Regions from separate parts of the Homo sapiens genome. Here region 2 is linked to region 1. Evidence: fine-mapped expression QTL. A gene starts in region 1. The other region holds a variant in brackets. All regions are shown on one strand. Distances are between the middles of the regions.

Evidence for each region. PIP is the estimated chance that this variant, and not a neighbour inherited with it, causes the effect.
Region 2: its variant is fine-mapped to the expression of PUM3 in whole blood (TOPMed, PIP 0.97).

The regions. Positions count from the first base shown.
Region 1 is chr9:2,840,873-2,846,249 of GRCh38, reverse strand. PUM3 (pumilio RNA binding family member 3) reads left to right here and starts at 2,155. Exons shown (of 18, transcript NM_014878.5): 1 at 2,155-2,205. RefSeq lists enhancers at 1,824-2,063, 1,887-2,181, 2,565-3,126.
Region 2 is chr9:2,800,750-2,806,126 of GRCh38, reverse strand. PUM3 (pumilio RNA binding family member 3) reads left to right here. Exons shown (of 18, transcript NM_014878.5): 18 at 1,664-1,975. The coding sequence ends at 1,796. Among named protein-coding and RNA genes, the nearest start is that of PUM3, 41 kb to the left of the region's middle. The variant G/A (reference allele first, on the strand shown) is at 2,202.

The sequences.
Region 1 (5,377 bases):
GTTCCTTTGATTCTAATCTCAATGCTCGTCATTGCATTGCTATAGTACTGTTATTAACCTCTTGGATGTGTGCAAGTCTAGTTGCTCTGATTAAATTGTGTATCACGCAAGAAGAGCATCTTAGGCTTGTAGGAGTACACCTAGTGGTCTACATTTAGATCATTAGATATTTGAAGAATTAATGGGTTTGCTTGACAAAAAAAAAAATTACAGGATAAGCTTTTTTTGTGCTGTTCTGCAAAACCACACGATGCTTTCAATTCACTCCAAAAAAAAAAAAAAAATCCAAATCAATCCACTTTCACAGAAGACTTGATAAAAAAGTTTTTAATAATAATCAAGGGCTTTGATATGTGATAACATTTTTTTTTTCCTCCCTGGTGAAAAGGCAAATGAATAGCAGGGTTTTGGTGCAGATGCTTAAGGCAACTGCATGGACCTATCTTCAAGGATATGGGGTGCTGCTGTCTGTCGAGTTGAAAACACAAACGTATCCCTTCCCAGGGTTGTGTGATAGGGTGTATTTTGCGATTTTTCTTTCTTTTTGGCCAGCATTTACTTGTCAGGTGTTTCAAGGTGTCTAATATCCCCACTACTATGCTATTTGCCCAAAAGGCACAGCTGATGGGCCTCCTGCAATTCCTGTTCCATATTCTCTTCTCTTAGCATTTACTGAATTATTGAAAGCAGTACGGAGGCAGCCACGTTGAGTTTAGAGTCAGGCTCACTGGACCAAAGCTACTATGTTTTGCCTTTCTCTGTAAAATGAGAAAAGACCTATTTAAAACGTTCTTATGAGATTTAAATGAGCTGAAATGTAAACTAGTAACAGTTAAGGTAGACGACAAGAACTTATCAAGTATCTATGTGCTGCATAGTGAGATAAGTGCCTGGAAAGTAATGATGGCCCCTGTCATCAAGAAGCATACAGTCTACTAAATTACCAGTTTCAACTCTAACTCCTTAGTGGCCAGAAAACGGAGTAAGTTGGAAGACAGTAAAATCTGAAGTCTGGCACCAGGGATCAAGTGCCAGTTCCTCAACTTTACAGATGCAGTGGGTTGAATAGTCTCCAAAAGATATGTCTATGTCCTAACTCCCAGGACATGTGAAAGTGACCTTATTTGGGAAAAGGGCCTTTGCAGATGTGATTAAGGACCTCCAGATGAGATGATCTTGGATTATCCCCGTGGACTCTAAATTCAATGTTCAGTGTCCTAAAAACACACAGAGAAGTGGCACAGGCACAGGAGAAGGCCATTAGAAGACAGGCCGAGATTGGAGTCATGCAACAAGAGGCCACGGACCGCCTGGAACCGTTAGAAGCTGAAGAAGCAAAGCATTCTCCCCTAGAGCCTTCAAAAGGTGCAGGGCTCTGCCAACAGCTTGATTTTGGAATTCTTGCCTCTAGAACAGTTAAAGAATAAAATTCTGTTGCTTGACACGAGCAAGTTTGTGGTGTCAGTTTCTTCATCTGGAAAATGGGGCATATATCCTAACCACAATCTTATTTCCTGAAGTATAAAATGGAATAACAGCAGTTTCCAGGCACGAGCAGACACTAAAAATGGCAAACATTTATTGAGAGCGTTCCATGCTAAGCGCTTTGCACGTATCACTTAATTATTTCTATTTTATTGATCAGGAAGCCAAAGCTCATAAAAACTGTAATTTTCCCAGAGCCACACAGCTAGCAAGTGAAAAAAACGGGATTACAATTCAAATCGACTCACAAGATACCCCTTTTATCCTCCACGCTGGACTGCTGAGGAAGTATGCAAATTAACACACTTTAGAAACTTTAGCTACTTCAATATTTGTTCAGGCTACGGGATGCAGGCCTCTTATTAACCGCGCCAGCCAGGTCTGTCCTTCAGCAGCCTGTTCTGCCTCGCAAGAGCTCTCCCTCTCTTTCCAGCACGGAAGCCACAGGGTTAATGACGTCATTTCCCGTGGCCGTTGTCGCGTCCTCCGCCCGACGGATTCTTGCAAGGGCCAAAATCCTCGCGCCTCAAGAGGAGGCATAACAGCAGCGGACCAATAGAAATTCCGAATTTTTGTATTCTCTGGGAAGCTCCACCTCTTAGTCCCTGATCCGCCGCGGAAGATGAAAAAAAGCGGCCCGGGGGCGGAGCAAGGCAAGGAAGCGGAAGCGGAGAGGCGGTCGGGATCCGCTGCGCGAGCTGTCTCGGTCCCACGTGTGCGGTGAGTGTGGCAGGCTCAGCGGTCGCTCTTGGGAGGGGTTCGCACCCTGCCGGGCGCTGGAAGTCGGGAAGGTCTCTCGGGGCTGTTGTCCACTGGGCAGTCTCCTCTGGCCTCTTTCTGGGCTAGGAGTTTGGGACTGACTGGAGCCTGGCAAGAAGGGCGGGACTGGCCGGGCGCGGTGGCTCACGCCTGTAATCCCAGCACTTTGGGAGGCCGAGGCGGGCGGATCACAAGGTCAGGAGATCGAGACCATCCTGGCTAACACGGTGAAACCCCGTCTCTACTAAAACTACAAAAAATTAGCCGGGCATGGTGGCGGGCGCCTGTGGTCCCAGCTACTTGGGAGGCTGAGGCAGGAGAATGGCGTGAACCCGGGAGGCGGAGCTTGCAGTGAGCCAAGATCGTGCCACTACACTCCAGCCTGGGAGACAGAGCAAGACTCCGTCTCAAAAAAAAAAAAAAAAAAAAAAAGAAGGGCGGGACTCCGACCTCTCTCCCACCACGTTGCCCTGCGTGCCGGGTTAGAGTGGACTAGCTTCACTCCGGAATCCCAGCCCGTGCTCGGCCTGATCAGCCTGTCTGTGCTACTTCACAAACCCCAACTCCAGTGCTAGGCGGTTTGCCTGAATGTACGCAGATTCTAAGTGCTGGGAGGAAACGAACTGGATGCTGAGTTGGCAGATAGTGGAGTCTGAAGAAGTGATCTTTAAACGGAGATTTGGAAGCTCAGGGAGTACTTCAAGCAGAGGCGATAATGGGCTAAGTTCCTGAGATGGGAGCTAGGAAGGAGTATAGTTAGAGTACAAGATAAAGTTAGCCGGATAGAGTGGAACTAGGTTCTGTAGGGCCTTGAAGGTCATGATGGGGAATTTTTTTTTCTGTACAATAGGAAAACATTTCCGTTCCTATTACCATGTGTAGAAAACATTGAAGACTTGTAAGCAAGTGAGAATCATGAATAGGCCCTGGTTCTCTTTAGAAAATGTATTACATTTGGAAGCTCAAGAGATTGTATTGGTAATAGTTTGCATTAGGGTGGTGACGTAAGGGACATTTAAGAGAACTAACTTATGGTTCAGCGTGGCAGAGTAGAGAGGAAAATGTCAAGGGTAACTCAGATTTCTTACTTGAGCAGTAAAGTAGATGATGTGCCATTGGCTGAGATGGAGGACGATAGGGCAGGGAAAAATAGTATATTGTTGTTTGTGGGGCAAACAACAATAACATAAAGAACAACATAGAGAATTATGTTTTGGACATATTAAGGGTAAGGTTCCTGTTAGACACATAATTAGAGGTATCAGATAAGCAGTTATACACAAGTTTGGACCCCAAGGAGAAGTTCATAATGGAGACATGATTTGGGAGTACTCAGCATAAAAAGCCAGGAGATTGGATGAGACCACCTAGGGAGAAGTGTGGAGAGAGAAGGGAAGTTCCCTAGGGCAAAGATTTGAGGAATGCTAACATGTAGAGGTTGGTCTATAAGAAAATGTCATTTAAACTGAATTTGAAGGATGGGTAGAAATTGTGTTGGTAGAGAGAATGGCTTTAAACTTCACTATTCTGATAAGAATAGTGGCTCCTGTGTGGTGGTGATGAGTGGGGTGAATTAAGACCACATTTTGAATGGCTGTGAATGCCTGAGTTGGAACTTTTTCCTGAAGGCAGTGGGAAAGCTTTGAAGCTATTGGAGCATGGAAATGACATGAAATAGGTGTGCTACTGGAAGGTTAATCAGGCAGCGGAAAGTGGATCAAAGCAGATAGGATCTAAACAAAACTGAGCAAGAGGTAACAGGAGCCTGAATGGGGTAATAGAGGGAAAGGAAAAAGGGGGGCGAATTCCAAGAGACACTATTGAATGTGATGATTCATTACGAAGGTACAGGGTTCCCAAGCAAAGCAAATTGCATTTTGCCCAGTGCAAAAAGCAAGACTCAAAAAGTTACATATTGTATGATTCCATGTATAAGAATGCCATTCTGGAAAAGACAAAACAGGAGTGAAAACCTAATCATTGGCAGTCAGGAAAGAGGGAAGGAGTTGAATACAAAGGAGCTGTACCAGGGGACTTTTTAGAGTGACAGGACTTTTCTGTAAGATACTGTGGTAGTGGATGCATGAGTCTTAGCCATTTGTTGAAGCCCGTGGAATTATACACCAGAAAGAGTAAACTTGACTATATGCACATTTAATAAATCTGCCAGCATTTCTGGGGATGGAATGCAGGCTGTGACAAATCAGTTAAACTATATTATAAACATGTAACTTCACTAAAGAGGGTGAGGGGCCGAAGGGCTGATCTAAGAACCTTTTTTTTTTTTTTTTGGCCTGCAGCAGTAATTGCTGCAGGCAGAATACACTGACTTGAATGCTAAAGTTAGCAAGTAAAACTTAAGAGGAGGTAGGATGTCCATATATTCTCCAAACATCTTGTCTGAAATGTTTATTAATTGCTATGGTAGTTTAACATTTGAAATAGAGTCTCACTCTGTTGCCCAGGCTGGAGTGTAGTGGCACAATCTCAGCTCGCTGCAGCCTCTGCCTCCTGGGTTCAGGTGATTTTCCTGCCTCAGCCCCCTGAGTAGCTGGGATTACATGTTTGCAACACCACCATGCCCAGCTAAATTTTGTATTTTTAGTAGAGATGGGGTTTGGTCTTGAACTCCTGACCTCAGGTAATCCACCTGCCTCAGCCTCCCAAAGTGCTGGGATTACAGGTGTGAGCCACCATGCAAGCCTCTAAGTAACTTTGGAAAAGTATTTTGAATGGATACAAAAAAGAATTGTACGTCAACACTGTACTGTCATTGTAAATTTATTTCTCACGGGGTACAGGTTAGCAATTCTGAAACTATGCATGTATAGTAGGGTGGAATATGTGTATAAATAAATTGTAGATGGTGGGAAGCAGGTTGCTCACTGTCAGAGAAGGAAGTTACAAATGAGCAAGAGGAGATGCCTGGAGGAAAATATGTGGTGCTTGATTAGATTTGGAAACATCAGTATGAGCTTCAAGTTATTGTAATAGATATAAAAATAAATATAGGTATGTGCATATGCATAAGTTAATATACATATATGTGTTTCCTGAATCTGTCTGCCGAAAGGACATAGAAACAGGGACACCTCAGTGACAACAAGTGCGCCTAGCACTCAGATCTTGGTTT
Region 2 (5,377 bases), 40 kb after region 1:
ACTCCCATTAGGTGGATTTCAAACATAGGAAGGATACTATAGGTTTATTATGGAGCACTACTCAGAATTGGAACAGGAGCAGAGGAAATATTTGAAGTTCTAAATGGAAGTTGAGCTATATATAACAATAATACAAAAAAATTGTTTTTGTAAATTTTGGGTGAAAAGAAAATCAGCCTTGTATGTTGGCTGAAAAGTAACTCAGAGAAGCAGAATTCTCTAACATTTGGGAGCATTGGCACTTGACAGACTGCCTGGGTTCTAGCTTAGTGCATAGCCTTGGGAAAATTATTCAGCTTTTCTGGGCCTTAATTTTCTTGGTGGTAAAAAAAATGAGATTAATGATAACCCTATGGTCGTTATGAAAACTAGATTGGATGATGCATATAAAATGCCTAGCATTATGTCTAATATGTGGCATATGCTCAGTAAGCAATAACTTACTATTATGTGTTGTATAACTGTGTGTTTAGCCAAGATGTATGAAATAAAAACACCTAGTGAGTCACAAATTCATTACGAGGGAACTTTACTTTTTAGCATCGTAGGTGGCAAGCTGAATTGTTTCTTATCTCCCATAAGCAGTAGAATATTGCTTGGTGCTGATAATTTATCCTCCTCTTTGTTGACATATTGGAAGTTACTGGGACCAGGGACTTTGGAAAATACCAAGTACCTCATTTCTAAAATGTGTTTCAGAGGTCCGTATTTACAAAGGGTCCCGAAAAAGAAGAGAACAGGAAATTCAGGACTGGTACTCTGCGGTCAGAGCTGTAGGTCCTATCCACAGAGAAATGGGCCTGCTGTTACCAGCCTCTATGGCTCCTTTCACTTCTGATAGAGTACTCGGGCAGGGTTTCAGAACGCAGAGGCCGGGCTTATTTTGTAGAATGGCTAACATTTATTAAGTGCTTACTAAGTGTCAGGCTCTGGCTGGGTGCTTTAGATACAAGGCCATTTGAGCCTCAGAAAACCACTCTGTGAGGTGGAAGGTGGACTCTGTTGTGAATCCCATTCTACAATTCGGGAAACTGAGTCTTAAGAGAGTTTACATAGCATGCTCTTGGTTGTACAGTTACTGAGTGGTAGAGGCAGGTTTCCCACCCAAGCAGTGAAGCTCCACAGTGAAGCCCTTCGCCCTTTCACTCAATGTTAGTGCTGTGGAGTTCAGTGAGAAGACCTGCTAACTCTGACCTCTCTGTGCCTCTGTTCACACCTTTTCATTCAGCCACGTGGTGGGCATATTTTGGCTGTCTGCTCTGTAAATGTAGCATCATGAAATAAATAAAATACGGTCCCTGCTCTTGAGCTTATAGTCCTGAGATGGGGAAGGGAAGATAGAATACATGTAGAATCATTTTAAGACAGGATGTAAGTAAGTCCTAAGATAATGTGAAGGTAGAACCAACTCTGTATGGAATGATGTTGGTCCTACAAATGTCTTTGCTTGGGTGACTCCACCAGCAAGATTCTAAAACGTTTTTTTCCGTGGTGTTATAATATGGGCTACTGGTCTCATCATTCATCCTTTGAATGAAAAATAATGTGTATATAGTTACAAGGCTTGTGTCACAGTTAACAAAGTCTTTTTTACTGTTGGTACAGGTAGTATTGGAGATGATCTAGGAATGCTTATGAAATTTAATTTTTTTCCTCTCTTCAGCCTCCTCCAGAGTTGTGACCTGGAAGTTGCAAACAAAGTCAAAGCTGCACTGAAAAGCTTGATTCCTACATTGGAAAAAACCAAAAGCACCAGCAAAGGAATAGAAATTCTACTTGAAAAACTGAGCACATAGGTGGAAAGAGTTAAGAGCAAGATGGAATGATTTTTTCTGTTCTCTGTTCTGTTTCCCAATGCAGAAAAGAAGGGGTAGGGTCCACCATACTGGTAATTGGGGTACTCTGTATATGTGTTTCTTCTTTGTATACGAATCTATTTATATAAATTGTTTTTTTAAATGGTCTTTTTTAAAAATCTCAGCTGTCTCCTCTGTTACACTGAGTAGTAAGCATATCAGTGTGAGGCAATTAATGTGGAAGGTTTACCAATCATATATGGTGGGACCAACCAGATATATAAAGTGTAGTTGAATGAGTTGATTCAGGGGAGAAGACATCTTCAGTGAGCATAGTCTGAGAAGGCTTCCTGGAGAAGGTGGGACTTGAGAGGACTTTCATCCTGTCAAAGGAAGGCAGGATGT[G/A]GAAAAGAAGAGCCAGGGGGAGTCGTGGGCACAGTAAAGTGGAATTTAATGAGTACCGGGGCAGTGGGGGGTTCACAGCTGCCTACCTAGCTGTTTTATGGATTAGGTTCCATGCTAGATTTTGTTTGAAAGCCACTCAGGTAAGTTAAGCTCATAGGAGGAAATGTGCTAAATGAATTAGGGGATCACTGTGGATTGCGGTGTTAAAGTCAGGGTCACTGGGAAGTTCTCCTTGTCTCTGATTTTGGGCCTTCCAAGTAAATAGCTCCTTGTGATTAGACTTTCTCCCTTGAGACTGTCCCTAAAATGTCAAAGCCTATGGAGTTTGAATAAGAAGGAAGAAGGTGGAAATTTGTTACGTGCAGAAGTTTAACTACAGCTAGGATGTTTGAATTTTAAAACTGCAGTTGTTTGAGCAAACAAAGCTTAGAAGGATTGGTAGCTCAGTCAGGCTCATGTAGTCATGCCTATGAGTATCTGGCTGCTTTCTCAAAGTAGTCTAACGGGGTACTCACTCAGGTCTGTCACTGCAGTTACACCTGCTGAGGAATTGGCTGTGCCTTTCCTTTCCAGACCATGGGGTCCCAGGACTACTCCAGCCTACCGACTACCAGGACCCCTCCTGCCACGGTGTATTGAATCCTTCCCAGACTGCAAAAGCGCTGATGGCTGTAACTTTTGACATGGATTCTCACATCACCCAATATAAGGGTGTGGGTGGAGAGCTGGAGGAACTGGGATGGGATAAGGAGGTGAATGGGGAAAAGGCAACAGTAGAGCTTGCATTTGTTTGGCTAATACATTGTGATTTGTGTTCTCTGTATAAAGAAGCCATTCAGAGAAAGGGGGAAAGAACCCCTGCTCTTTGTTTCATCTTTGAAACTAAGATAATGTGTACATAATTTGAGGAGTACTTTTATAAAGCTTATAGCAGAAGCAGCAATCTACCCCATTCCTCTGCACCCCTGCCTCACCCTCCCCAGAACTACTGATTATTCTTCGCTCTGCTAAATGTCTAAATACATCTATCAGTTGCAGGTATTTTCTTTTGATTTCCTATTACAGGAAATGCAGATTAAGAACTTTTACCATCACTGTTCCCCACTCCTCTTCCCTCCCTTCCCAGTAGAATTGCATCATGTATGATGAAATCAGTGTTCAGGGTTTACCTTATTATACCTACATAAATGTTGTTAAATATTGATTCAAGTAGTGAGCAGCCATTACATTTCCTCTACTATTTTAATTTTTCTGGAATTAGTCATTTATTTTCATTTGCTTAGTTTCTACATCTCTGTTGATTTTTCCTAAACTTTACGTCAGAATTGCTTAAATTCTTCTCTTGAAGGCACCCTTAGCAATTACTCAACAGCCATTTTCCTCTTTTTTTTTTTTAGCCCACCAAGGCTTCTGTGTTATTCTGGTGTCTGCTCCTTTCCACGTGGCTTAAATATCCTAACTGATATAATTCAGTGTTTCTCTAGTTGGTTGTGAATGTGTTGGGATTTTGACAACCTCATTCATTACCCCACCCGGCTGTACACCTGATTCGCTTGTGTGTCCTATGCAGAAGAGCACTGGTATGACCGAGTCCGGAGGGCCCATTTCTTAAATCAGTGACGGATTTAGGAAGGAGCCTGACCAGTGAAAGTTGGAAGAGAGATGGTATTCCTGGGAGGGTTTCTTAGGTCTCTTGGGTTGTAGAGAGTCCCCTTCCTGCCCGTCAGCTTTGGTATGTGCAGGACTAGGCCCAGCCTGCAAGCTAGAAGCCTGACAGGAAATAGCAAATATGCCGAGGATGGCTGAGCAAAGGTTTGTGAAAAGAGTCTGGAACTTTGATGATGTTGAGCTGTTGAATAAGTTAACTCCTGGAGCTGCGCTAGCCGTGGACTTCTGGTTATGTGAGAGAATAAACCCCAGTTTTTCATTTTAGGTCAGTTTTGAGTTGGATCTTTTGCAACTTGCAGCCAAAAGTATGCTAACCTGGCTGTCTCTAAATACCAATTTCCACAGTATCCAACATGTCAAGTCGGCAAGCATTTCCACCTTCTCCTGGAGACACCCCTCCTGGCTTTCGGGATGTCCTGAAGAACTGCTGCTCCTTCACCATCATCATCGTCTGCCTTCCCTTAGTTTCTCTCCTATGAAAAGTCCATTTCTCAGATCCCATGCATCTCTCTTGCTTAACACCCTTTTCTCAACACGGCACATCCTCTAGTAGCTTCCCGAGAAAGAATACATTCTAAAGACCTTGCAAGTCCGAATGTCTTTATTCTACTCTCAAACCCAGATGTCTAGTTTAGCTGGACATAGAATTCTAGTTTAAAATTAATTTTGCCTCAGAATTTGAAGATGCTCGTCAATATTGTCTTTAGATTGCAAAGTTGTAGAAGTTTAATGTCCAGTGCCATCCTTATTCTCAATCTTCATATGCGGCCTTTAAGTCTCCAGCTTTCTCGTGTTTCAGGATCGTGTGCATTGGAAAGTGTTATGTATATTTTCTTTTCCTTCTTTATGCTAGGCACTTGGTGAACCATTTTAGTCGGAAGAGCCAGATCCTTTCATCCTGCGAGATGTTTTTCCATGGTTTTTTTTCTGATTTTTTTAATGTACCCCCTGCCCCGTGTTTTCTCTGTTCTTTGTCTTTGGAGCTATTACTGAGAGTTGAAATGATTTGAGCCTCTAATCTTCTTTCTTTTCCCTATTTTTAATATTTTTGTTTTTTTGCTTTGCTTTCTGAGTGAGATATTTTCTCTACCTTCTCTGCCAGCCTTTTGTGTTTTGGGTTTTTTGTTTGTTTGTTTGTTTTTTGAGACAGGATCTTGTCACCTAGGCTGGAGTGGCAGCTGTGCAACTTGAGCTCACTGCAACCTCTGCCTCCTTGGCTCAAGCGATCCTCCCACCTCAGCCTGTCAGGCGTCAGGAAATACAGGCATGTACCACCATGCCTGGCTAATTTTTGCATTTTTTGTGAGACGGGGTTTTGACATGTTGCCTAGGCTAGTCCTGAACGCCTGAGCTACCATGCCTAGCCACTCCCAGCCTTTTCATTAAAGTGTCCTTTTCTTATTGCTTGTATGCATTATCTCATGTTTCTTGGTGATATTCAATTTTATGGTTGGTTGTTTTGTTTTACTTTCTTTTCTGTCATCTGCTCTTTCTGTTTGCTTTGGGCT